4 linked regions of the Homo sapiens genome follow. The protein of the gene in region 2 interacts with the protein of the main gene of each other region in a pairwise test. Each region holds a gene or a part of one and is shown on either strand. Other genes may lie near its edges. The genes, in order: DOK4, LIX1, TSACC and APPL2.

Evidence for each region.
Region 1: the proteins of LIX1 (region 2) and DOK4 interact in a two-hybrid assay, tested with the Homo sapiens proteins (one large-scale study listed by BioGRID and IntAct).
Region 3: the proteins of LIX1 (region 2) and TSACC interact in binary tests that used the Homo sapiens proteins (3 or more experiments, as listed by UniProt).
Region 4: the proteins of LIX1 (region 2) and APPL2 interact in a two-hybrid assay, tested with the Homo sapiens proteins (one large-scale study listed by BioGRID and IntAct).

The regions. Positions count from the first base shown.
Region 1 is NC_000016.10:57,471,257-57,478,442, forward strand, and holds the end of DOK4 (docking protein 4), read right to left. Parts: intron 4,702-7,186; coding exon 4,594-4,701; intron 4,365-4,593; coding exon 4,250-4,364; intron 3,964-4,249; coding exon 3,844-3,963; intron 3,727-3,843; coding exon 3,537-3,726; intron 2,784-3,536; coding exon 2,645-2,783; intron 2,481-2,644; coding exon 2,357-2,480; coding exon of another isoform or gene 2,240-2,356; coding exon 2,121-2,239; 3' UTR 666-2,120; downstream 1-665. UniProt on the Homo sapiens protein: DOK proteins are enzymatically inert adaptor or scaffolding proteins. They provide a docking platform for the assembly of multimolecular signaling complexes.
Region 2 is NC_000005.10:97,137,030-97,145,808, reverse strand, and holds the start of LIX1 (protein limb expression 1 homolog), read left to right. Parts: upstream 1-3,197; 5' UTR 3,198-3,232; coding exon 3,233-3,314; intron 3,315-8,779.
Region 3 is NC_000001.11:156,344,511-156,347,495, reverse strand, and holds the end of TSACC (TSSK6-activating co-chaperone protein), read right to left. Parts: intron 2,917-2,985; coding exon 2,788-2,916; intron 729-2,787; coding exon 514-728; 3' UTR 501-513; downstream 1-500.
Region 4 is NC_000012.12:105,185,184-105,193,333, forward strand, and holds part of APPL2 (DCC-interacting protein 13-beta), read right to left. Parts: intron 4,973-8,150; coding exon 4,808-4,972; intron 4,642-4,807; coding exon 4,589-4,641; intron 3,265-4,588; coding exon 3,090-3,264; intron 1-3,089. UniProt on the Homo sapiens protein: Multifunctional adapter protein that binds to various membrane receptors, nuclear factors and signaling proteins to regulate many processes, such as cell proliferation, immune response, endosomal trafficking and cell metabolism.

The sequences.
Region 1 (7,186 bases), on a different chromosome or scaffold from region 2:
AGAAGTGGGTCATAGATAGATTACCAGGGATGCAGTGGTGTTTAGGCAGGATAGGTCTTTACTGGCCCTGACTGCTGTTAATAATTGGCAGCAGTGCTCCCCAGATCCCAGAAGGTCCCTGCTGGAGTGTTTCCAGTGCACCTGTAGGGAACCAACTAGACTTCTCTCCTGGTTAGTCCAGCTCTTTACTCTAAACCCTTTCTGTCCAAAATGAGTCATTTTCAGTTGTACCTTAGATGTCTGGTGTTGAGGATCAAGTGCCATAGCCTTTATTCAGGGGGCCTATAAACCCTTCCAGTTCTTGCCCCAGGGCTGGCCTGCTAGCGCTTCAAATTCCCAGGTGTCCCTAATTTGAGAAGTAACCTTTTGGAATAGCATTAGACCCTGGCTGTCCCCTCCCCACCAAATAAACATGATATTTCATTCTCTGTCCAGCAGTCATGAACCCCTTCACCTCCAATGACCTGATCATTTAGTTTGGTGGGGGTGGGGGTGGGGGTGGGGGTGGAAGCAGCCGCAGGAGCAAGGGCCCCTCCCACATACACAGGAGGAGTATTTCATTTCTCCTTAATGAAGGCTCTGGCCCTAACCCCTCAGCACTGTCTCCAGATAGGAACATGCACAAAGCAGTTAATTAGGCAGCCTGGAGAAAACCAGAGATCCAGTACAGAAAGGAAAGGATATTTATTGATTAACAGAAGTTGTCTTTTTAAAAGTGTTTATTTTTGGCAATAAAGAGCACAACATAATCTCCTTCATGCGTCATCGTGCCACTTAGCTGAGCCAGCCAGCTCTGCCTCCCTCCCCAAAGACCTTTGGACCCCAGTTCCCCTCTACAGGCTAGCTCATCCCTCTGGGTGGTCATTCCCCGGGTCACGTTGAGAGCGAGGCTGACTGCACCACCTCCCTAGCTCAAGGGCTCCTTTGGGAGGGGCCGCGTGCTTTATCATCCTCCTGCCACAACTCAAATAGTGGTTATTTACAAGAAGGTCTGTTCCCACAAATCAGGACCCTAAAGTATTAAAAAACAAAACCCAAAAAACAACAAAAAACCCCACACAACCAAAAGTTTGACGTGAATAGAAAGATAGCCCTTCTGCATGGTAGTCAACAAATACCAGCACTAGAAAATCAATTGCTTTAATTGCATTGCAGCAGGGAGCCTCAGCACCATGTGGGGAGGAGGAAATGGGAAGGTCTTGGTTTCAGAGTGCTTTTGGCTGGCCAGAGGGTGGCCAAACAGGGCAAGGGGGCTCCCTCTGCTTGGGCATTGTCCACCCCTGGTCAGTGAGAGGGGGGCAGCAGGGGTGCTCCCCACGGCAGTCCTGCTGCGGCCTTCCCTCCTGGCCTATTCCTGGGGCAGGAACAAGCTCCAGCCTTCCTCCACATGGCTGAGGTAATCAGCACCCCTACCCCAGGGGCATCTTCCCAGCCTACAAAGCAGGAAGGAGCCTGTGCAGAAGTTACATTTTAAAACCAGATTTTCACCTGAGGCGTCAACCAGATGTCACCTCTGCTTAAAACTCCAACTGCAAGGCTGGCAAGCAGCACAGAGGAAGTGCAGATCCTTCCTGTGTCACTCCAGGCCCAGAGGAACTGAGAAGCCACCTGCTGTTCCGGCCCTTGGGCTGTCTGGGAAAAGCCAGCAGTCAGAGTGCCAGCCTCAAGCTCTGATTATCCCCCTCCTGTGGCCCTGGTAGTTCAAGCAGGTCCTGGCAGCAGGAGGGCTGTGCCATGGAGGATGGACACGACTGCACTCATACTCAAAAACAGCCTTGACCGTGGCCTGGTCATGGGATTAAAAAATTTGTGTGTATTGGTGGGGAAGGATGGGGTGAGGGTGAGGGGATCTCATTGATACAGAGTATGTCATAAGCCATATATATTAAAATCATTAACAGTATATAGTCCCACGGTAGCTCCAACCCCTCACACATGCTCAGGTGGTGTGGCCAGCCCTTTGCCTCAGTCCAGCCTCATCCTTGGGGGCAAGGAGGGGGCAGCTTGCTCCCTTTCTCCAGGCTCTTGGCCGACAGCCCCCTGAGGCTGTCCACGGTACACTGCAGCCAGCCCCGCAGCAGGCAGCCCCCAGCAGTCATCGGTGCTCGCCAGCACTGTGGTCACTGGGATGGGGTCTTGGCCTCACTGCTGTCCCCCTGGCTGGGCTTTGGCTTTAGCAGGATGAATCTGTTGAGGAGGTCTGTTTCCGAGCTGGCCTGGGCTGCCCCATACCCCTCACCTGTGGGCACAGAAGCAGGCTCAGAACTCAGAGCTAGGTCAAAAGACCCCTGCCCAATAGGCCTCATCCTCCACAAAGCCTCCTGGCAGGTGGGTGTGGGGCATGGAAGCGACTCACCAGCATAGCTGGAGGCTTCGGCGATGTTCTGGGAACCAGTGATGTGGTGCCAGTAGGCACTGCGCGGCAGCATGGTCGTGGGTGTGCAGGGATACGAGTAATGTTCCGTGCCCTTGTTCAGCAGCTGTGGGGCAAAGGAAGGGGTCACTCCCATTAGTGGCTTACAGTATCCCTGAGCAGCCACCCCAAGACCCTACCTGCCTCCACTGTGTACCCCAGGCACTTGGCCCTGCCTGCCCGCCCGTTCCCCCCTCCCCCCGTACCCTGGACTGATGCCCGCTGCCTCACCCTCACGTTCTTCTCCATTTCCAGCAGGACCCGCTTGTGCTGCTCTGCGATGGCCAGGGTGGCACTGTGGACGCGCTGGTAAATCTGCTCCCCCTCTTGTGTCTGGAAGGTATAGAGTCCTTCCCCAGCATCACACATCCTGGGGACACAGCACAGAGGGCAAGATGGTGGGGACCCACCACAGACATGCATGTGATTAGTTAGGCTCTCTTGCAACTGCAAGTTGTGGTTGCATTCCAGGCCGGGAGGACAGGTAGGGCTGTGGTCTGGGGGTCCGACCACACGGTGCAAATGTGCTGAGCATATTCTATACCAGCTGGTGCTTGAAATGCATTATAAGAATTAACCCATTCAGTTTTCTCTACCACCTCCCTCTGGTCTCTGTACCATTAATGGTTTCCTCATTGTTATGCATTTTCCCAAACCATTTTATAGATGAGGAAACTGAGGCATACAGAAGCTAAGTAACTCAACCAAGGTTCTGCAGAGGATTATATGGAATTTCAGTCTAGGCAGACTGACTCCAGAGTTCAAGTGAGGGGATACCCAGTCTTCACTATAATTCTAGGAGGTTAGGTACTTTATTATCCCCGAAACCCAGACTCAGATCCACAGTCACAGAAGTAGTAAGTGCCTGAACCTGCATTTGACTTAAGCCAAAGTAGTATATGATTTTTGGTAAATAGCTTCACTTGACCTGCATGCTGTGGGCAAGTTACTCCTCTAAGCCTCCATTTCATTTCTTCGTCTGTAAAATGGGAACATTACATTCCCCCTTGGGATTGCTAGGCCAATAAGTAAACCAAGCTCCTAGCACAGTGCCCAACACAGAGTGAATGGCAGCCACCATCACACCATAGTAGGACAGGGCTGGGAGGCGAGAGGGTCCTACCGGCCAGCCTCGAAGGTAAAGCGTGTGGCATCCCGGCCATAGCGGCGCAGTGAGCAGAGGGGCCACGAGACGAGCTTCACACGGGGGTTGTGGATGTCCCAGAGGTAGATGTTCTCGTGGGTGATCTGCAGCTTGCACTCGCCATACACGTCCAGGTTGGGGCAGGGCAGCAGGAAGACATTGAAGCGATCTGGAGTGGGGGAGGGTGGACAAGTGGGACCAGAGTTGCCCCAGATGGGGACTTCCTCCCTCCCTTCCTCTCTTCCTCCTCCCCCTCCCCACCCCCAGGGCCAGGGCCCGGCCTCACCTGTCTGTTCACACTGCACCCCTGGGGCCAGGAGGTCAGGTTCTCCCAGACTGATGTCGTTGAGGCGGGACCCCAGACACTCCACAGATAGTGTCTTGTACCACTCCTCTGCCTCTAGCTCTGAAGAAAATGCTACTTCATCATGCAGCTCCAGAGCCCGGTAGCCCACCCCGTCTGCCCAGCCTGACTTATGCCACCATGCACAGCAGGGAGGGTAAGGACAGTGGGTTCTGCCTGCCTGTCTTGCCTCAACCCTGAGGGCCTGCTCCCTGAAAGCACCCCCAACCCCACACACACCACACCACCATCTCCACCCAGGGTTAGCCCTGCTCTGCCCGCTCCTAGCTGGACCTCTGACCAAGACCACCCCAGGGGAGGCAGATGGAGGCCCATACTCGCGCCTCACCTGAGTCGCAGGTGAAGGTACGTGCCGAGTCATCAGTGAATATGATGGCCACCGCCTGCCGCTTGGTCTCCTTGGGGAGCCGCGTAACACACTTGACGTTGCTGATCTCAGTCACCTGGGACAGCATCCACAAGGGACTTAGCCAGGCCAGTGCATCTCTCTCTCTCTCTCTCTCTCTCTCTCTCTCTCTCCCTCCCTCCCTCTCTCCCCCCTCCTCCTTCTCTCTCCTCCTCTCCCTCTCTCCCCCTTTCTCCCCTCTCTCCCTCTCTCCCCTCTCTCCCTCTCTCTCTCTCCATCCCCCACAGCCCTGCCACTTGGGGGAGCTAGGGCCCAGGCCTCCTAACCTTGGGGCAGCCCCGGAGGCACACCGACTTCTCATCTGGATACTTCTCCAGCCGCTGGGGCCCCTTGCTGGAGGATTTCCGGAACACCAGCCAGCACCTCCGGTAGATCTGTGGAGCGAGATGACAGGGCTCAGGCCTCCCTGGACCACTCCCACCCCACCAGCATGGCCCTGCAGCCACCCCTGCCTGCCACAGGGGGCGGTGCCGCACAGCCTTCCCTGGAGCCCCAGCCTGGGGACACCGGGGGTGGGAGTCACCAGCAGTGTCACCTCCCTGGGAGAGAAGCCTCCTCCCCAAATTGAAAAGTCATTGACTTCTTGGCTGGCTCCAAAACGCTGTTCCACAAAGGGTGCTCTCCTGACCTGCCATGTACTGTGTGCACCGCTGAGTTTAGTGTGAGTAGCCAACGTTCCTGAGTGCTTCCTGCTCACACCTGTTATTAGCACTGTGCACAGTCTCAGGGCCACTCCTGAGATCAGTTCTGTTATCATCCCCATTTTATAGATGGGGAAAGGGAGGCATCAAAACACTAAGGAATGGTGATGCTGGTATTTGCAGCAGGCTGTCTAGATCCAGGGCAGACCCTCACAGCCCACTGCAGGATCTGGCCAGGGCTCAGGCAGTGCCAGCCACAACAGAGGGGTCTCCTGGGGATAGGGATTAGACCCTTCCCCCTGCCCACCTGTACATCCCCGTGCCCCTAGTTCTCTGAGTCAGGTGAGGGTCTTTACAAAGGTAACCCCCACTCTTGTCTCCTGGGGCTTTCACTCACCCTCTCTTTTCATTCTCTTACCAACCCTGAAATGTAAGGGGCCCTGCTCCAGCTGGGAACCCAAAGCTGTTTGAGGTAAAGGGGTGGAGCTAGGAATCTGAGGCTCCTCCCACAGCATGGTGCCTTCCCTCCTGGCCCTGGCCACTGCTGATGCCCCTGTACCTTAAACTACCTACATTCTCTGTAGCTTCAGGGACTCCCCCAAGGGGGTGGGGAGCAGAGGGGAGTGACCACTCTAGGATTGAAGGGACAGACTGGCCTATCATTCATGGGTGGTGGAGAGGGAGTTGGCCCCAGCCACCAGCCAGAGCTGCCCTTGCATGACCCCTCCCTCCTGCCTAGACTTTTTTCTGCCCAAAGTCTGTGGCTGGGGTTTACCTACTCCTTCCAGCGGGCATTCCAAAAGCCCGACAGAGCCTGTTCCCCAGGCATCTCTGGTGTTCCTCTTACTGGAAACAGTAGGGAGACTGAGTGGTGGCCGAGAGCACAGCAGAGGAGGCCAGGGGGCCTCTAGGCCCCACCCCTCCTCGGCCCTACTGTGCCATGCGTACACTAGGTCCTTGGCAGGCAGGGTCCCAGGGTGCAGTGGCCCTAGGCAGCCCCCATTTCAAGATACCACTCAGAGCCAGGCCATTTCTGGCTCCTATCTGGGACCCTAGGAGGCATGTCTGCTCCTGCACCCCTGACCCTGGCTTGGCCCCTGTCCTACCCACCTAAACCACAGCAGCCCTCAGCTCTCAGCTGCAGCGCTCCCTTAAGACAGACACTGAATTTTATCCACAGAATCCTCACTCATATCCTGGTAGCCTCATTAACAGCCATGCTAAACAAGTGAATGACCATATGAAGGAACCGTGAATGAATGGATGGATGAATGGATGGATGCTGCCGACCCAGATACACCCTGCCAGGGTGGGCTCCATGCAGCCCGCAGCATCAGGGGCAGAAGGCCTGGGGGCCTGAGCATGCCGGTTGCCTGGTTACAGGATACACATTCACAGCCCCAGGGAGCCACGCGCTCAAGAGCCCTCCTTCCCACTTCGCACAGGGCTTTGATCAGTGCTTCAGAAACACTCTGCCACAGCTCTGCCGCGGGAGAAAGGCCCTGGCAGGTAGGAGAGCCGGCTCCTGATCTCTTTCAGCCCCTCCCCCCTCACCTCTGTGGGCTGAGATGAGAATGGCTGCTGGGGAGGGACCACAGCCTCTCACACCAGGGGAAGTGAGGCTCCTGGCTTCAGAGGGAAGAGAATTCCCTGCATGGATAGGGCCTGGCTATGCCCCACCTCCCCATCCAGGCTGTGCCCACCTGTCAGCCACTCAGTCTCCCTCTGGAACAGGTTTGATACTGAGCCCAAGTGGCTGCCCTTGTGGCTGGTGCCTTCCTGGCACACTCTGCCCTGGGCAAGGCCTCAGCCCAGCTGGCCCCTGGGGACCTGCTAAGTCTGGGGCCATAGGAATGAGAAGTGATGTTAGAAGCGAAGCCTCTGCTTCCTTGGCCTCCCTACCTCAGCCTCAGCTTCTCTCTTTGTTCTGTGCTCCAAGTCAGTGGGCTGATCCCCCTTTCAGAGGAAGAGCAAAGTAGCCGATGGCTGCCAGGGCCCAGTCTCAACTAGGTTGAGCCCCAGGGCAGGGAGGCACAGGAGGGGAAGTGGGGCCAGAACCACCTTCTCCAAGACCAGCCCTGCTCTGTCTGGTACCCAGGTAGGGAAGCTGGGTGGCAGATCCCTCTCCCACTCCGCATGCCCCCCAACCCCACTCAGGCTGAGCCAGGGATCCTTGAGCAGCCTGAGCCGACCCGCCCCCTTCAAGGCAATGGGAGAG
Region 2 (8,779 bases):
CACATTGAAAGTACTTCATTTATACTTTGTGTCCAATCAATGGATAATAGCTTTTTTGTCCACAAAGCATCTAATTTCTGTTTTAGATGATAAACTCCTGGACAGCAAGGACATTGACAATTTCCTATTTGGCACAGCTCATATAAAGTGCACTTTGGGACCCTGTTTAAAGAAAATGTCTTAACATGAAGGGCCACTTCTTTCAAGTTCTTATCTTATACAATGTCTTTGCACTCTGGGGCAACCCTGTGTCTGTGTTCTGTGTGGCATATACTCCCTGCGGGCATTTGCTAAGTGATAGTCATGATATGGTTTGGCTGCGTCCCCACCCAAATTTCATCCTTTTTTTTTTTTTTTTTTTGAGACAGAGTCTCACTCTGTTGCCCCAGCTGGAGTCCAGCAGCACAATCTCGGCTCACTGCAACCTCTGCCTCCCCAGGTTCAAGCAATTCTCCTGCCTCAGCCTCCCGAGTAGCTGGGATTACAGGCATGCACCACCACGCCCAGCTGATTTTTGTATTTTTAGTAGAGCTGGAGTTTCACCATGTTGGCCAGACTGGTCTCGAACTCCTGACCTCAGGTGACCCGCCTGCCTCGGCCTCCCAAAGTGCTGGGATTACAGGTGTGAGCCACCACACCTGGAACCAAATCTCATCTTGAATTGTAGTTCCCATAATCACCACGTGTGGTGTGAGGGACCTGATGGGAGGTAATTGAATCAGGGGGGTGATTACCCCCATGCTGTTCTCATGATAGTGAGTAAGTTCTCATGAGATCTGATGGTTTTATAAGGAGTTTTGCCTCTTTGCTTGGCACTTCTTCTTCCTGCTGCCATGTGAAGAAGGATGTGTTTGTCTCCCCTTCCACCATAATTGTAAGTTTCCTGAGGCCTCCCCAGCCATGCTGAACTGTGTGTCAATTAAGCCTCTTTCCTTTATAAATTACCCAGTCTTGGGTATGTCTTTATTAGCAGCATGAACTAATACAGTGAGTATAATAGGAATTATTATTCTAGTTCGGTTCCATCTATTTCCTTTTATGAAGCCTGCTCTTCTACAAACTAGCTGAAGAAGCTGATCACATGGAAGGTATTTCATTTTTATACAGTCTTTAAAGGTCTACTTTCAGTTCATCATAAAATACAACCTAGTTATGGAATCTGAAAATTGGAAGAAACACTGGAAAGCAATCTTTGTGGCTACCCTGGAAAAATATTTTAAATAAAAGTTTGACAATCCTCAACAACCTCCTTCAACAAGTAACATTGGTTACAACCACTAAAATTAGTTATTTTATATCTGGTATAAATCCTTATTATGGAAAAGGAATCCTGTGACTTATATTTATGTCTTCTATGGAAAGATTATTTAACAAAGTGTTACAGGTAGTATAGATCATGAATAGGTAGAAAAAGAATTTCTGTTTTCTTAAGATCTTTAAAGGCCAGGCATGGTGGCTCATGCCTGTAATTCTAGCACTTTGGTAGGCCGAGATGGGTGGATCACTTGAGGCCAGGAGTTTGAGACCACCCTGGGCAACATGGTGAAACCCCCTCTCTACTAAAAATACACAAATTAGCCAGGTGCGGTGGCGTGGGCCTGTGGTCCCAGCTACTAGAAAGCCTAAGGTGGGAGGACCGTTTGAGACTGAGAAGTCAAGGCTGCAGTGAGCCCGGATCATGCCATTGCACTCCAGCCTGCATGACAAAGTGAGACTCTGTCTCAAAAAAAAAAAAAAAAAAGGATACAGCTAGGGACTAAATTAAGCCTTGCATTTGAATTCAGGAGCCACTCTTCTGGAAGCCAAGGCTTGTTACCCCCCACAACCCTCCCAAATTTTAGTCACTTCTATTGGGCAGGGGCAAGTAAAACCTGACAGACTGTCTTACAGCTTGCCTGGGAACATTTGTTTCCCTATTTACCCTTCAAAGTGAATCATTCCCAAGGTTGACTTTAATTAATTCTGATGTAATTCACTTCCTTTCACTTAATAATTATTAAAAATTTCAGGGCAGGGTGCAGTGGCTCACGCCTGTAATCGCAGCACTTTGGGGGCCCAGACAGGATGATTGCTTGAGCCCAGGAGTTTGAGACCAGCCTGGGCAACACAGTGAGACCCCATCTCTACAGAAAATTTAAAAATTAGCCAGGCGTGGTGGCGTGTGCCTCCCAACTACTTGGGGTGCTGAGATGGGAAGATTGCTTGAGTCCAGGGCTCAAGCCCCTCACTTGAGTCAAGGCTGCGGTGAGTTATGATCACGCCACTGCACTCCAGCCTGGAGGACAGTATGAGACCCTATTAAAAAGAAAAATAAAACAAAGAAACAGGACGAGAAAATACATATATGTTTCTTAAGGTAGTTATTGAAAGATTTTTTTAAAAAATTGAGACAGGGTCTTACTTTGTCACCAAGGCTGGAGTGCAGTGGCACAATCTGGGCTCACTGCAGCCTCGACTTTCCAGGCTCAAACCATCCTCCTGCCTTAGCCCTCCAAGTAGCTGGGATCACAGGCATGCACCACCACACCCAGCTAATTTTTGTATTTTTTGTAGAGTTAGGGTTTCGCCATGTTGCCCAGGCTGGTCTGGAACTCTTGGGCTCAAGCGATCTGCCCGCCTCAGCCTCCCAAAGTGCTGGAATTACAGGCATGATAAACTGCACCCAGCCCCATAATCTTTATAGCACTCCTTTACCAAAGAAGAATTACACTGAAAATTTAGATTTATAGGGATTATACTGTTAACATATAGCTGGCAGTCCTGAGCTGGAAGCTGTCTTGTCATTCAGGAAATTTCCTGGAGAAATAACCTTCCTGATTCCATATTCCTGGGGGCAACACAATTGAAGATGGAGGGCCAGAAGAAATACTCAAGTCAGAAAGCTGCACAGCATTCAGACAAAATCTGGTTGGAGAGGAAAGCTGTTTTCATAATTTAGCGAGCTTCCCCAGCTAGCCTGTAGGTGGGTGTGTTTAACAGAAGAAAGCAATGGGAACCCGCCTGTCAGCCAGCCTTTCGAGCTAATTAGCTCAGCATACAACAAAGATAAGTGAGCCTGGGAAGAGGGCCCCCTGAGGGGTCTTTAGATTCTGGGAAATGTCTGATTGGCAGATGTTAAAAGGGATTCCTTGGTAATCCAGTGCATCAATGAGCTGCAGAAATTCAGCCCAGGACTGCAAGAATTCAGGCATGAGGACACTCTGTACAGGAGGCTCACACAGGCAGACCCAAGATGGACAGAACCTTGGAATCTCTGAGACACATCATTGCCCAAGTCTTGCCTCACAGAGATCCGGCTCTAGTCTTCAAAGACTGTAAGTACTGAAGGGGGAAAAGTTTTTTGACTTTTTAGAAAATAGTCCTAAACGTCAAGTCACATCCTATTTAAGTAAGATTTCTCCTAAATCTCTGCAGTCGTATGCTGTGTTCTAAGTGATATTTTAACTTGTTCCTGACTTCAGCCAGAAGAACGATTTCATTTCACCTACAGGCATTAGGCACTGGGTTATTCTGTCAGTGATACATCTTGCTAACTACTTAGAAGTCTCTTCTACAATCCAAGACCTGCCTAAGACTTAATGAACTTTTTCTGATGCTTTTTAAGTAAAGCAAAGCTGACTGGTGTTGAGATTAAACCTAAAAATAATTTGGAAATGATACTAGAATATATCAATATTTGTTAACCTGTTTAATACTCCACAACACATATTAGCTATGTTAATTCAAGTATCGTGTTTGTCTGAAAATATTTGTTGCAAACCAGAATTAACAGTAAATCACCACTGAACTTTTAAATTTTGATAACAGATTATAATGCTTTAGTTAAAAGGCCAATAAAATGAGATGCCTCCTAACCTCAGCAACACTCCCTGTGTGGACCCCCTACCACCATCACCAATTTATACAGCATGGCAAAGTTATTTCAAAATCTTTTTTTTAATGATTTAAAAATAATTCAATCAAGATTTCCAATTCTAGCAATACTATTAAACCATTTGTCATATAACTTCGTTTCTGGAACCAATTTGATTTCCTGCTGCTGCAAAACAGACTATCTTCATGTTGTATCTTATCTACAGTGGGTTTCATATTACAAAGGGCTTCTGAAATAGAACTGCCCAAAAGGTAAAATGCATATGGAATTTTTTTTAACTTCAATAGGTTGCAGCTTTCCTCTTTGTGAATCTAGTTGTGTTTGTCTCCATCAAAACATCAATGGTTTGAATTTTTGCTTTCTGATTGCTGAATAACGTTCCATTCCAGATGTCCTCTTAGCTTAGATTTCTCATATGTATGTTGAAGAAAGAGGAATGTTAGGCCATTTAATTCTATAAATTTTTCCTCTTAGATGTTAAATTGTAACCAATCTGTCCTTTAAGGCATAAAGTGAAAGCCTTTTCTTTCTCTAGCTCTCTTTTTAAATATTGTCTTTAGGCATTTGCCAATAACTATGTTAGATCTAATAAAAATCACTCTCTCCACTACTCTAGCCTGGAGTCTATTCAGGTTTGTTATGTTTTTTAAGCGAAAAGGGGAGGAAAGAATGTCTCTCTCCTACAATAGAACTGATTCACTAGTGAGGGATAAAAGGGCTCTCGGGCTGCCCAAGCTTTGGATAAATTGTATAGGACCAGGGTTCTTATGCTGAGCATTTAAATAGGGGAAGCAGTTAAAAAAAAAATAGGGGGGACGTTTTTCACTGGCCCATTGAAAACTTAATAAGTTCAAATGTGAAACTGTATAGCTCATTTTTTAGCTGAACTAAATTGCTGCGATTGTTTACAGTTTAGAAAAGAAGATAGACTAGAAAAAGGATTACAATAAAGCATACATTAAGTTCTGTCATCCAGGACTTTGCAGGACTTCTTTTATATGGGAGAACAAATAAGTGTCCTGTTTTATATATTTCATTCATTAACATAGAACCTATATTTGACCAGAGAGCATTGCCTGTTTACCCTAGAATGGACTGCTACTCGGCAACTGCTTGCATGGCTTAATAGACGTGAATATTAAACTGCCGATTCTCTCCCTTCTTTTCTAATCTGAAAAATGACTAAATGACAGTAAGCCAAATGGCACATTTCTGTACCAGGAGTTTTCCTAACTTTAAAACATCCAACCACTTACCAATCTCGTGGAATAAGTGGGAATGGGCTGCTTACTTTCTGGGACAGGACATTAAAAGTCTGTCTGGAGCCTATGCCATTGCCCTGGCAAGCTGTAGGTGCTGCACACGCCAGAGTTTGGCATATGGTCCCATTTTCTTTGGCATACCCATAAGTTGCTGCCACCACACTCCTATTGGCAGCCTGTAAAAAGCTGCCACCAGCCTTGAATGGCAGGTTCTGAGCAGTCCCCTCTCCTCCTAGTCACTGCTGGCTCCTCCTCCACTCTAACCTGCTCCAAGCTCTTTCTGCCAGAAGGAAAGAGCTGAGCACTTGAGCACATCACTGCCAATTCCTTAAGAAAAATTGCTACCTTACTTTCCTACAAGATGAAAGCTGATCCAAGAATTTTTAAAACCCAGCCCAGTTGAACAAAAGAATAAACACACACAAACACACAAACACACACACATGCACACACAAAACACTTTTAAATTTTTTCTTAATTTATCTTCCATGAATGCAAACACAGTTTTTCTCTCTTCACTCTTTGGTTATACATAATCCAGGGAGTGTAAATGATCATGCAATTCATTTATTGCCCTCAGTTGGCTTTTGATTTGCTTAAAAACAAGCAATAGTAACTGAATTTTCTCTTCAAGTTGGTTAGAAAAAGCACCCAGAGAGTTTTCTGGTCTGAAACAGATGCACATGGGAATAGTTACATTCATTTAAAGAAATAAAATTCAAATGCTTTCTCAGATGAGGAAGCTCTTCAAATGGTATTTTGCAATACATTAAACCTGTCATTTTATTTTATACAAGGCGTTCATCTGGCAATAGTTGTGATTTGTTTCTTTTTTTATTTTCTCTTCTAGAAGGAAATAAATTCCATAACACTTTTTTCCTTTTCCCTATTTCACATTTCATATGAAAAATAATGGAAAGAGGTTTTAAATAAGATGGACTCCCAATTTGAAATTTGTTCATCTAAGCTGACACTGGACTGTTCTCCCCTGCATAAATGTCTCTATTTTAAAACAAGTAGCACTGGAAGTCTCCACACTACCAGGCAGAATCTCTGCAAAGTATAGCTTGTCTCCATATTGCTTTCCATTCTTGGCTTTGTGCAATATCCAATTTCGTTTCATGTGTCATGCATCACAACCAAAGCTGAGCTATCCTAAAAGCAGCCCCTGTCCACTCTTTTGAAGAAGTGTGTTAACTTACTATTCATTTGCCACTGTTTGACAATTCCTTGCGTACTTTCTCAAAAGAAATCACCACATGACTTCAAGATAGCTATGCTTTCAGATCCTAATCTGAGTGTTAACTCTTCATATTACAAGAGCACAATACATTTATCTGCCATCTTTGAGCTCTTTCTTCAACCATTTAATAGTAAGGCTAAGACATCAAGTCCTCATCATGTGATAGGCACTGTACTAGAAACATTTATTCTTCACAGTAAGCTAGTAATGTAGGTACAATTGTTGTTAGAGGTGAGGAAACTGAGGCACACAGAGGTTAAAATGACGTGCCCAAGGTCACTCAAGGTCACACAGCTAGTATGTGATAGAGCCAGGAATCAAATTCTGTCTTCCAACTCCTTACCTTGAAACACTATGAGACATTGCCTCTCAGAAGTGCTAGTTACCATGTCATTAGTGTTGTAATAGCAGTACAGGTTGAGTATGCCTTATCTGAAATGCTTGGGACCAGAAGTGTTGTAGATTTCAGATTATTTTTGGATTTCAGAATATTTGCATTATATATACTTTAGCACCCCAAATCTGAAAATCTGAAATCTGAAATGCTTCAATGAACATTTCCTTGGAGTCTCATGTCAGCAATTAAATGTTCTGGATTTTGGAACATTCTGGATTTTAGGTTTTTGGATTTGGGATGCTCGACTTATATCTGTTAGGAAAACAGAGGGGAGAAAAAGGAACTCTACCAGGAGCATAGAGGGAGCCCATTAAATAATCACATTTGAACAGAAGTGTGACAAGAAAGTGGTGAGGGGCAGATAATTTTTGATGAGATAGAACAGCTTGTCCAAAGACAAACTGGGCAATACAAGAACCATGTGCTGGGGGAGGCAGAGACAGACTGAGGAGGCAGGTTGGGTCATGCTGACATGCCGGCAATAGGGAGCCATTGGAGTTAACAGTAAATTAGTTCTGGAAGTTTATGGCCTTATGTTGCGTTGCGGAAAAGTTTATATTGACATTGGTTAGAGGTACACATCCGAATACCTAAGTTAGGGAACACTGCAGCTTTTTCTTAGCAAGAAACCATTTGCCAACTCAGACAAGATGCAAGATTTGTAAATGTCAAACATGCCTATGAGGAGAAACCACTTTCACTGACTGAAGGCCAAAATCAGGGCAAACTTTCTCAAAAAGATTGTTTAAAAAGTATCTTAATTGTCACTGTAGCCATGAGAATGAGTTGGTTTCTAGCATTGACTTATGAAGTGACATGTAAGATTTCACTGAGATTTTTTCCCAAATTTTATAATGAAAAAGTAAGATGGATCCTTTACTAAGCGTTGAAAAATTGGAAGCAAATTTCTCACATATTTGAGGTGCATTAACTCTTCCATTTGGGAGAACATTTTTCTGCATGAAAGGTTTTATTTATATCAGATAGGTGAATACTTTACTTCAAAGAGTACGTTTTTTGCCCTTTGGAAAAACTGGACCAGACTACAGGGCTATTAAAAACATCTTAGTAATCATGAATCTAGCTATATGCAGCATGAGAGAGCAAGAATCCTCAGGAGTCAAGTACTTTATCCACCCCATGCTTTTTAGTACAGTTATGTGAAATCAATAAATTTATAGTTTTCACATTTCACAGAAAGGAATGGAGTAGGATGTAAAGGCTGAAGATTCTTGTGCAGTAAAATCCCTATACATATTGCATTGCATTCCACCACCCCTGAAAAAATACAGTTTAAAACCACAAAAAAAAGCCAAACAAAAATAAACCCTATAGTGCTTGCTAGCTTATTTTAAAATAATGAGTGCATCTTAATTACAGTAATTTGAACTCTGCTAATTTTAGCATCTAAACTATGGATGTCTGTTTGACTGAAGCCTATTCAAATGCTAATTTTACTTTATTTATCATAGGGCCTAATTATTTTTATTTGAATTTATACTAAGGAAGAAATATAAATTTTAGTACAGCTATCAATGGCATAAGAGCTGGTTCTTTTTTTTTTTCAGTAAATATACATTTGACAGAGTTTAAAGTTAAATGTATAAAAGTCTCAACCCTAGAAGACAGGTTTTCAAACTGGAAAAAATAGGTAGCTTCTTGATCACTTTATGGCTTTATCTGTCCTAGTACATTTATTTCTCATAGAAAAGTAAGATTTAACAGATCAAAATAAATATGATAGACACCTATCCTGTGAGATCAAATCTGGGACCTCTTCATTGACTGCTCTCCCATCTCACCAGAGGTCTTTGGTGGTGGTTGCTGTTGTTTTTAACAGTTAAGATTTGTTAGTCTGAACTCAATTTTAACAACTTCTGAAACTCATGTGTTAAGTTACAGCCCATAATAGGATACAGATGCATAAGGGTGAGTTTCTAAGTTATGATCTTCTGTTTAAATGACACGGTTTTACTGATTATGTGCTACAGATTGATTTAAGA
Region 3 (2,985 bases), on a different chromosome or scaffold from region 2:
CAGAACCAAACCATGAGCCAAAATAAACATATTTTCTCTACAAATCACCCAACTTTAGGTATTTCTTTATAGCAATGCAAGAATGGACTAATACGTCTACCTCTAGGTCTTTGTCCAAGCTTCCCAACTGATATGGAACTACCTGACTTCATCTGTCCATGCCATCCAACCCCTCCCTTCTTCAAGTGGCATCATGAAGCCACTTTCTCCAGCAAGATTCTAAAATTGGTCCAGTTGTATCCTAGTAACCTCCAGTGTTAGTTCTTAACCTCCATCCTCTTTCAGAATACCACTACATTTTGCAATGAATTGTCTGCTTTGTTAGACAGTAATCCCTGCAAACTCCTTTTGTAATATGTAACCCCAAGTGCCTTGTACAACGCTTTGCACTCAGTGAGCACTTATTATGAACCTGTGAACAAACTAACCATATGTAGAATACATATACCCAGATTCCAACAAGGGTTTACTGGGAAGAGAGAGGAAAACAACACAATAACTTTGTTCCACAATTCATTTACTGAATTGGGGCAGGTGATTTAACAATGGATTAGGAGATAAGGCTGGGAGAGAAGAGTTATTGCTTCCCCTCCCAGGAGCCAGTTGTGTCACAGATGCCTGTAAATGTTCCAAAACAGCCATCTGTTGTTGGGCGAGCTGGGTCTGAAGCTGGAGGTTTGCATACATACATTCCAGGAGTCCTAGGCATTCCTTGGGCTTGTGATCAACTCCAGAAGGAAAAGCAACGGAGGTGCAAGGGAACAAAGGAGAGAGATTTGGTAATTGTACTGAGGTTGGAAGGACCCTAATAAAATGACCTCTCCAATCTTTCCAGGCACAACCCAACCCAGACATACCTTTGCCCAGCTGTCACCTCCCAGTGAGGCATACCTGGCTATCCTATTTTAATTTGAAATCAATCACTGGAACTTATTACCCCCTCCCTTGTTTCACTTTTCCCATAATATTTATGGTCATATGGCATATTTTATAATTACTTAATTTTTGTCTAAGTCCCCCTTCTAGAACGTAAGCTCCAGGAAGGCAAGGATTTTTATCTGATTTGTTCACTACTTTAACCCTAGCACCTAGAAAAATGCCCAGCATATAACAAATATTTGATGAGTGAATGAAATGGTCTGGGAGGGAGGCCTACCTTCCCTAGAGCTCAGGGGATACCTCAGCCTCCTCTGTTACTTGACATAGTGTATCATTAGCAGTGACCTGAAGTTCCCTAACTTCAACCATTCTTGCTACATTGGTCCATTGTTTTTTTTCTTTTTCTTTTTTTTTTTTTTTTTTGGAGACGGAGTTTCACTTGTCACCCAGGCTAGAGTACAATGGTACGATCTCAGCTCACTGCAACCTCCACCTCCTGGGTTCAAGCAATTCTCCTGCCTCAACTTCCTGAGTAGCTGGGATTACAGTCATGTGCCACCATGCCTGGCTAAGTTTTGTATCATTAGTAGAGACGAGGTTTCACCACGTTGCCCAGGCTGGTCTCGAACTCCTGACCTCAGGTGATCCACCTGCCTTGGCCTTCCAAAGTGCTGGTATTACAAGTGTGAGCCACTGCACCTGGCCAGTCCATTCTTTTTCTAATATTTTTCTTTTTTCTTTTTTTTTTTTTCAATGGAGCCTTGCTCTGTCTCCCAGGATGCAGTGCAGCGGCACAATCCTGGCTCACTGCAACCTCCACCTCCCAGTTTAAGCAATTCTCCTGCCTCAGTCTCCCAAGTAGCTGGGATTACAGGCAGGTGCCACCATGCCCAGCTAATTTTTGTATTTTTAGTAGAGATGGGGTTTCACCATGTTGGTGAGGCTGGTCTCAAACTCCTGACCTCAGGTAATCCGCCCGCTTTGGCCTCCCAAAGTGCTGGGATTACAGGCATGAGCCACCGAGCCCTGCCAGTCCATTCTTTTGTTTGTTTTGAGATGGAGTTTCACTCTTGTTGCCCAGGCTGGAGTGCAATGGCCCAGTCTTGGCTCACTGCAACCTCCGCCTCCCAGGTTCAAGCAATTCTCCTGCCTCGGCCTCCTAAGCAGCTGAGATTACAGGCACCTGCCACCACGCCCAGCTTATTTTTGTATTTTTAGTAGAGACAGGGTTTCACCATGTCGGTCAGGCTGGTCTGAAGCTCCTGACCTCAGACAATCCACCTGCCTTGGCCTCCCAAAGTGCTGGGATTACAGGGATGAGCTACCGTGCCCAGCCACTTTTTCTAATATTTTACACAGCCAGTTAACCTTGGTAATTATATTATCTGCTGTTTGTATTTTTATCAGTCTTGACTTCTTTGTTGGACTCTGAGGTCCTCAAAAACAGGGGTTATGACTGTCTAGTTAGTGCCCTGTTGGGTTCCCCATAGCTATGCCAAATACCCACTGACCTCCCCAAGGGAAGATGAATGATGAAAATTCAAAGACCCTGAGACTGAGCTAATAGTTTCCTTCTCTAGCCACCGTTTTTTAAAATTTTACCTTCCCAAGTGAACAGGGGTAAACCTGGCCATCTTTTAACTAACATTACCAGTAAGCAATGAGAGGTTCACTTCACTCCTGCCTAGTCTAGCAAAAGTGCTAACAAGCAAGGAAACAATACAAGTTGGTAGAACTGGGATGATAATGATATCAATGAAACTAAATAATCAACAAGCTATCACGGAAAGATCTATAGATGCCTAACATAGATTTGGCTCTTGATCAATAGGCGACAGCTCAAGCCACCTCCTCCATGCAACCCTTCCCCCTGTTGAGTCCATTAGAAAACCCTCCCTACATCCTTACCCGAGGGCAGCTTTGTTGTCTGGATGTTCAGAAAAGTGGCTGGTGGGGAACTTGCTTGAAGATTAATATAGCTGGGGGAGGGTTTTGCTCTACAGAGAGGCACAGCATTAGCTTCCTCTTTGGCTGGAACTAAATCAGAGATAACTAAATCAGAGCTCATTCCAACAAGGGACAGCCTTTCTAATTAGATCCCTGCAC
Region 4 (8,150 bases), on a different chromosome or scaffold from region 2:
TGTGTTGGGCTCCGTGGTGATGGGATCCACTGAGCAAGACCACTTGGCTCCCTGGCTTCAGCCCCCTTTCCAGGGGAGTGAACAGTTGGGACTCGCTGAGGTTCAGACGCCACTGGGGTGCGAAAAAAATTCTCCTGCAGCTAGCTCAGTGTCTGCCCAAATGGCCGCCCAGTTTTGTCCTTGAAACTTAGGGCCCTGGTGGTGTAGGCACTCGATGGAATCTCCTGGTCTGCGGGCTGCAAAGACAGTGGCAAAAGCCTAGTATCTGGGCTGGATAGGTCTGTCCCTCACTCACGGCTTCCCTTGGCTAGGGGAGGGAGTTCCCCGACCCCTTGTGCTTCCTGGGTAATGCAATGCCGCACGCTACTTCTGCTTGCCCTCCATAGGCTGTACCCACTGTCTAACCAGTCCCAGTGAGATAAGCTGGGTACCGCAGTTGGAAATGCAGAAATCACCTGCCTTCTGTGTTGGTCTCACTGGGAGCTGCAGACTGGAGCTGTTCCTATTCAGGCACCTTGTCTGGGAATCAATTTTTCTTTTTAAATCTTCTAATTTTCTGTGTGACCTCTAAATGGTCTCAGAACCTATTCCACTGCAGGGGTATGTTTACTGTGGTGACGTATGCATAACGTCAGATTTATCATTAGTGATGTTAAGTGTCTTCATAACTTTGTGCAGCCATTACCACTATCTAGTCCCAGGACATTTTTATCATCCCAGAGGAAACTCCATCCCCATTAAGCAGTTACTCATTCCTCCTCCCACCCTCTGGCAATCTCTAGTCTGTCTTCTGTCTCTATGGATTTGCCTACTCTGGATATTTCATATAAACAGAACCCTACAGTATGTTGCCTTTTGTACCTGGCTTCTTTCACTTAGCACAATGATTTCATCATTCATCCATGTTGTAGCACTTATCAGTCCTTTGTTCCTTTTTAAGGCCAAATAGTATTCCATCATATATATATACAGGTTGAGTATCCTGTATCTGAAATTGTTTTGGATTTCAGCTTTTTTTTCAGATTTTAGAATACTTGCATTATATTTACCAGGATGAGCATCCCAAAATCCAAAATGCTCCAATGAGCATCTCTTTTGAGCATCAAGTTGGCACTCAAAAAGTTTCAGATTTTGGAGCATTTGAGATTTCCAGATTTGGAATGCTCAACTCTACCACATTTTGTTGATCCATTCATTTGATGTTGGGCATTTGTATTATTTCCACCATTTGGATATCACGAAAAGGACTGCTATGAACATTTGCGTATAAGTTTTTGTTTGAACACCTGTATTTAATTCTTTTGGGTAACTACCCAGGAGCCCGCCAAACTATTTTTTCACAGCAGCTGAACCATTTTATATTCCCACCAGCAATGGGTTCCAGTTTCTTCACATCCTTGCTAAACGCTTATTTTCCATTAAATATATATATCATATATATATCATATATATCATATATATGATATCGATATCATATATATCATATATATGATATATCATATATATATCATATATCATATCATATATCATATCATATATATATCATATATATCATATATATATAAACATCTGTGAGACAGTGTGCATGCGTGCGCACGCCATCTTAATATGGAGTGACATATCTCATTGTGGATTTGTTTTGCATTTCCCTAGTAACACATAGCATCTTTTCATGTCCTCATTGGCCATTTGTATATGATCTTTGGAAAAATGTCTATTTCAAGTCCTTGGTCCATTTTTTAATTGGGTTGTCTTTCTGTTGAGTTTTATAAGAGTTCTTTGTATATTTTGTGTACTACATCCATATTAGATAGAATTTGTGAATACTTTTTTCCCATTCTGTAGTTTTTCTTTTCACTTTGATGTGCTGTGGTTTTTCACAGTACTTTTACATATATTTTCCTTTGATCTTTTTGGTGGAAATTATTCCAGGACCAATAGGATTATAAGAACCATGAGCCCATTTCTGTAAAAGGTCCAGGACATAGTGAAAGAACAGGTTTTATTAATAAGAACTTAATTCTCAGATAAGGTTCATAATAAATGAAAAGGATGGGCTTAATGAATGGAAGAAGCTATATCCTAATTTTTGCTATAGTCCTAGTTACCTTTTTTGAAGCTAACGTTCATTGAGCACTTTTCATGTGCCAGTGAGTTGTAAATGTCTTACATATATTAGCACATTTATTCCTCATGACATTTATTCCTCATGACAACAGTGGAGGGTGTGAATAGTTACTTTCATTTTACAGCTGAAAAAACTGAGGTACAGAGGCTCAAAAATTTGCTTAAGGTCACATAACTAAGAAATGCCGAAGCCAGGAATAAACTGAGACATTCTGGCTCTAAAGCAGTGCTGTCCCTTAGAAATGTAATGGAAGCCTTATATGTCATCGAAGTTTTTCCAGCGGCCACATTAAGTGAAAAGTAACAGATAAAATTAATTTTACTTAATCCAGTATATCTAAAATATTACCAGACATGTGATTAACCTAAAAAATTAGTGAGATGTTTTACATCCTAAATCTTAGAAATTTGGTATGTATTTAACACTGAAAACACATCTCAGTTCAGGCTAGTTTTGCTGCAGATGCTACCTGTGGCTACAGTATCATACACCCATGTTCATAACCAGGATTTTGGTCATATCTGAAACCCAGATCGTATTACCTGAAACACTAAATCATGTAGTTAATATGGCCTGCTCTCTCTGTGATGGCCAAGTTATTTAGGCAGATTTTTAAGTTTTTTTCCATTATTTTTTATAAATAGTACTCTCAGAAATGAAAAAAAAAAAGCAAAACCAAAAAACTTCCATTTTCAAGCTCTGAGCTATAATATAGAGAATAAGTCTAGTGTGATGGCATCTTTGTGAACAACAGTATTCACTCACCACTGGATTTTTGAAGATACCAGTTCTTGTCTCTAAGGGAGCACTTTCTAGGCTATCTATCTTATGTAAAAAGTAGTGGGGGCAAAAGCAAGAGTAGTCTCTTCATTCCAGTACTAACATTTCAGATGGGTGCATTAGCCTTAAAAGGGGAATTAGCTGAAGCCATAAGAAAGTCTGAAAATAAAACTGAACGTACCTCAAAGATTGACTGGTGACCATCAGATGGGATTCTGTCATGCGGAAGATGTTATGAATAGCCCGAGCAGCCAATACTTGTCTCATCGCTTCATAAATCACTTCAGTAGTGCTGTCTGTTTTAACTGCCATTGATCCCAAAAACCGAACTATAAACATCTGCTGCAAAAGAGAATCTGGAAGACAGCATTTTCCACTCAGGATCTCATTTACTTCCTGCTGCTGTTGATCTGCATACCAGGGTCAGATGTGCTAGTTTTGCCTGCTTTCTGTGGAGGACTTTCTACCAAAATTTCTCAATACCACTTTTATAAGCCCAATATTGCCAAAGCTCTGCGTCTTCCATTTGTCTACATCTTGTCAGTTTGTTTGGAACTACTTCATTAGACTAGAAAGGCTTTTCTTCATCTATAAAATGAAATGATGGTGGTACCAGATGAACATCCTTCTAATGCTGAAACTCTAGGTGACTACATTGTACCTTTTCTCTGAAAAGAGTGAGTTCACTAGACAATAGAAAATTCATTACTTTGGCCCACTGATAAAGTCCTCTTAGAAAAGAAATTTTATTTGCAGGATATAAGATCTCATGTTGGGTCTCATGCAATTCATACTTCATGTGTATTACGGAAAGGCAGTGATGATGTTTCATAGCCTAAAGGAAGTCAGTCCTGGCTGCTGACAGTGGCGCATAACTTGACAAAACTGACTCCCAGCAACCATAACTAGAAGACCAAAGAAGGTTTTTTCTTTTTTTTCTTTTTTGAGACAGGGTCTCACTCTGTAGCCCAGGCTGGAGTGCAATGGCATGATTTCAGCTCACTGCAACCTCCGCCTCCCAGGTTCAAGTGATTCTCATGTCTCAGCCTCCTGAGTAGCTAGGATTACAGGCACCTGTCACTACACCTGGCTAATTTTTGTATATATATATATATTTTTGTAGAGACAGGGTTCTCACTGTGTTGCCCATGCTGGTCTTGAACTCCTAAGCTCACGTGATTCACCTGCCTCGGCCTCCAAAAGTGCTGGGATTACAGGCGTGAGCCAGCGTGCCGGCCATCAGATACGTTCTTAAGTACATTATAAGAATGTAAAAAACCAAAAATTTGAATTTGAAAGACTTAAATATCATTTGTGTCATCTTCAAATTCAAGAACAAGTTATTTGTGCTTTTGGTTTTCTAAAATGACACAGCGTATTTCCAGTTCACCAAGACTGCATTTGAATGTGATAACAGATTCAGATTTCACAACATTTCTATGCTATGCTACAAAAACGCTATGGCTAATGGTGAAATAGCTGTAGGTGGTCTTTCAGCTACCCCTCAGTTTTTATCCAAGACTTGCCTCCACTGCAGATATCTTACTAAACTTTCAGAACAACAAATCTTAATTCATACTCCTAATCATAGCTCTCTAAAACATGATTTCACATCTTATTTCAATGGCCGTTGTCATTTTGTGCAGAGGAAAGAATAAGGACACCAAACTAGTCACTTACCTTCTGCTTCTGGAAATGATTCATCCTCAGTTTCACCAAAAGGGTTGGTACGCCTAGGGGAATAGCCAGAGTTGAACAAACACGACAGCTGCAGCTAGAAGGGCACTTAACACTTGAACTGGAAATCAGAATGGCAACAGTCTTTGGTGGTGGAGGGGGACACAAGATACCTCAAATTTACTTTCAGTTCTCCCAGAGATAACCTCTCTCAGCCCATACCTGCTCCCTCTGTTCTGATCAAGGAATTCTGTAGCAGGAAGCACAATATCGAATTGAATCGGCGTTCCAGGCGCGATCAGCTCCTCTGCTTCAGGTAGACTGGCTGTTGCTTTGGGAACAATCTTGTCATTTTCATTTTCCATCTCTGAATTTTTCAGGTTCTGGCTGAAGGGGAAAAAAATCAATTCCCTTAACCTTACGCTTTTATAATCAAGTGAATACTTGTTGAAGGCTGAGGTGACTTTTATGAATGAAAATACAAGGGGAAAGATTGACCTCAATCCCTTAATCCATTCTACAAATAAACCTTCTTCAAACTTCCTTCATATCCTTGGCTAAAAACCTTCAGTCTGCCCCATTTCCTGCAGTTCTCTCTGCTGCACAGCATCCTGCACTGTGTTACTAGTTTTCTGTCTGTATCCTTCTCTGTGAGGCAGGTTTTGGAGGGCCTATGCTATAGCTAAGTCATATGTATTCTTGGAACATAGTAGGCACTAAAAAATGTTAGCTGAATGAACCAAAGGTCCTGGCTTGGCATTTAATCACCATCTGGCTCTAATTTCCCCAAAAGCCTCCCTTTCCACTCCTTTAATGCACCCTCTACGAGAGCTGTACCACACATACCACATGCTTTTCCTTATTTCCATCTTTATCCCAATTCTGCTGCTCACCCAACTCTCCCAACCCAGCTCAAATTCTTCCTTATCCACTAGGCCAGCCGGCACCCCGCCTCCCTCCTCTGAACTCCTGTGATTCTTCTCAGTAAGTCACAGGCACAGTCTTGCGGCCCTGTGTGCCTCCTGAGCTTCGCATTGTGCCCACACTCATTGCTGACATTGTGGCCCATCAAATACTGTGCTCTCTGTGGACAGACTAATCAGGAACCAACATGTTCTTCTCCTCCAGTCTCAGAATACTGTAATTTAACTTTTCAACGTTTTAAAAATCTTTTCTCCTCAGCCAGACTATAAACTCCTTTGAAGGGCAAAGAATATCAATGTATTTTGATTTCTTTCATTGCCTGGACCTTAAAAAGCTCTCAGTGATCTTTCTGTTCATTTGATATGTCAATATTTTCCTATTTCTCAAACATGTCAATAACTGAATGTAGTGTATCAAACTACTTTACAACAGGCATTTGACAAATGATCATAATGACTGGAATGTGGATGAAACAGTACATAGGCTTGTAGATGGTCACTGCAAGGCAAGCCCTTGGAGACCACTTGGTCTGACCTCCATTGTTAACAGAAAAGGAAACTGAGGCCTCTGGAGAAATTGAGCAGTTTTGAAGGCACTCAGTTACCTGGTGGGCGAGCCAGATTATAAACAGGGGTCTCCTCACTGCCAGGAGAGTGCATCTCCAGGATGTCATACTGCTTCAATAACCCTAAATGGGACAGTCACATCTGTTTGATCCTGTCTTTAAGAGAGGGCTGTGATATAATAAGTGGTAAGCACTGAAGAAAGCTATGAGTAGAAGCTTCAAGGGGAGAAAGTGAGTCTAAGATTTTGGCTCCCCAGAGAGTCAAAGGGGGGAGATAGATAACAATCAAGATAGGGTGAGGCCAGGTTGTAGAGGGCCCTTATACCGTCAGGTGGGGTCTGAACTTGACACAACAGTATAGGGAGCCACCAAAGACTCTGAACATAGGAGTGACATGATGTTAAGTTTCACCTGTACAGGATCTCCATGTCATCAGCTCTAATGGACACTTCGCAGTCATCATAATTGACTTAAAGCATCTAACACAGCTGATCTCTCCTTGAACTCTCCTCTCGGTTTCGGCTGGTGCCACATTTTACAGAGTTTCCTTCTACCTTTCTTGATGTTCCTTCTCAATGTCTTTGGCAGGCTCCTTTTCTACCCTAAATGCTGGAGTTCTTTAGGATTCTGTTGCAGGCTCTGCTTTCCCCTCCCTCTCCTTTCTCCCATAGAGGACCTCATCCACTGCTGTTCAGTGCTATGAGTCCCCGATTCATACACCCAGACCAGACGTTTTCTTTGCACTCCAGACCTGTATCATCCGTTGACTGCTTGACAACTCATTTGGGATGTTTCACAGGCCTCTCATGCTTAACATGTCCAAAACATGAACTCTTCTTTTTTTTAAAAAACACCATCTGCCCAGGTGTTCAGCTCCAACTGAAGTCATCCTTTGATCTGTCCTTTTCCGTCTACGCTTATCCATCAAAAGTCCCACAGGTTTTACCTCCAGAATAAGTCCACATCCATCTACTTTTCATCTCTGCCGTGATCCTGGTCTAAACCACCATCATCTTCTCTTGGGCTGTTGGGACGCCTCCTCACTGGCTACAGACTTGCTCTGTTCTGTGCTCTCCAGAGCAGCCAGAGCTAACTAACTTTGGAAAATGGAGAGTGGGTATCTCTGTCTCCATCACAAACACGCACCTCTCAGAGCCCTTCCACAGCTCCCCACATGCTTCCTTCTTGATCGACCCCTGCCTCCCTCCCCACCCGCCCTCATCCTGTCCCATGATCTCCACTGTCCCGTTACACTGCCTTTTTTCAGTTCCTCAGATATACTAAGATCTTCTCTGTCCTGTTACCTCCACAACTGCTACCAAGAATACACTACTTCTGGCTCTTTGCAAGAGTGGCTGCGTCTTGTCTTTCACTTTGCAGCTTGAATATTATCTTCACAGCCAGGCCCTGCACAGGTCTCCTCTTCACCCTCCATGACAGCACCTCATCTCCTTAACATTGGGGTGCTTCCCTCATTTTAACTCAGCCTGTGCTTACCTTTTGCCTGTTCTCCCCAGTAATCCCTGCGTTTTCTTACCTAGGCCAGGCCTGGGCAAATAGTAGATACTCAAATATTTGTTGAGTAGCTAGATAAATGAATGAACAGCAGATATATAGTAACTGCAGAATGAGGGAAGTCCACACATGGTACTTGCTTAGAAGTAAATAGCAGTTTGTTCCCAAGAACACAATTTCTCTGATTCTTTCCCCCCCCACTGTCATCAAAACATTGCTTTATTCTCAGTGGGCTGACCCTAAAAGAGATAGTATCCCTCTCCCCACAGCTCTGGGGCCATCTGGCAGCCACATCTGTCACCCATCCAATCACTGGGCTAATTCAGCTGGCTGGCTAGAGTCATTTTTTTTCCCCCCAGGGAGTCTTCTGTGTCCCTTCTGTGGGGTCCTTTTGGTCTAAGAATGTGACTTGCTTATTCTAGAATAGGGGGAAAAGTCAGTTACTGAATAATTAAATATAGGCTGCAAATTGTCTTTTTAGGAAACGTATCACACCTTCTAATTCCAAACCCCCCTAAACTATCCATCAACACCCTTGAGAGATGGCATATCAGAGCTAGA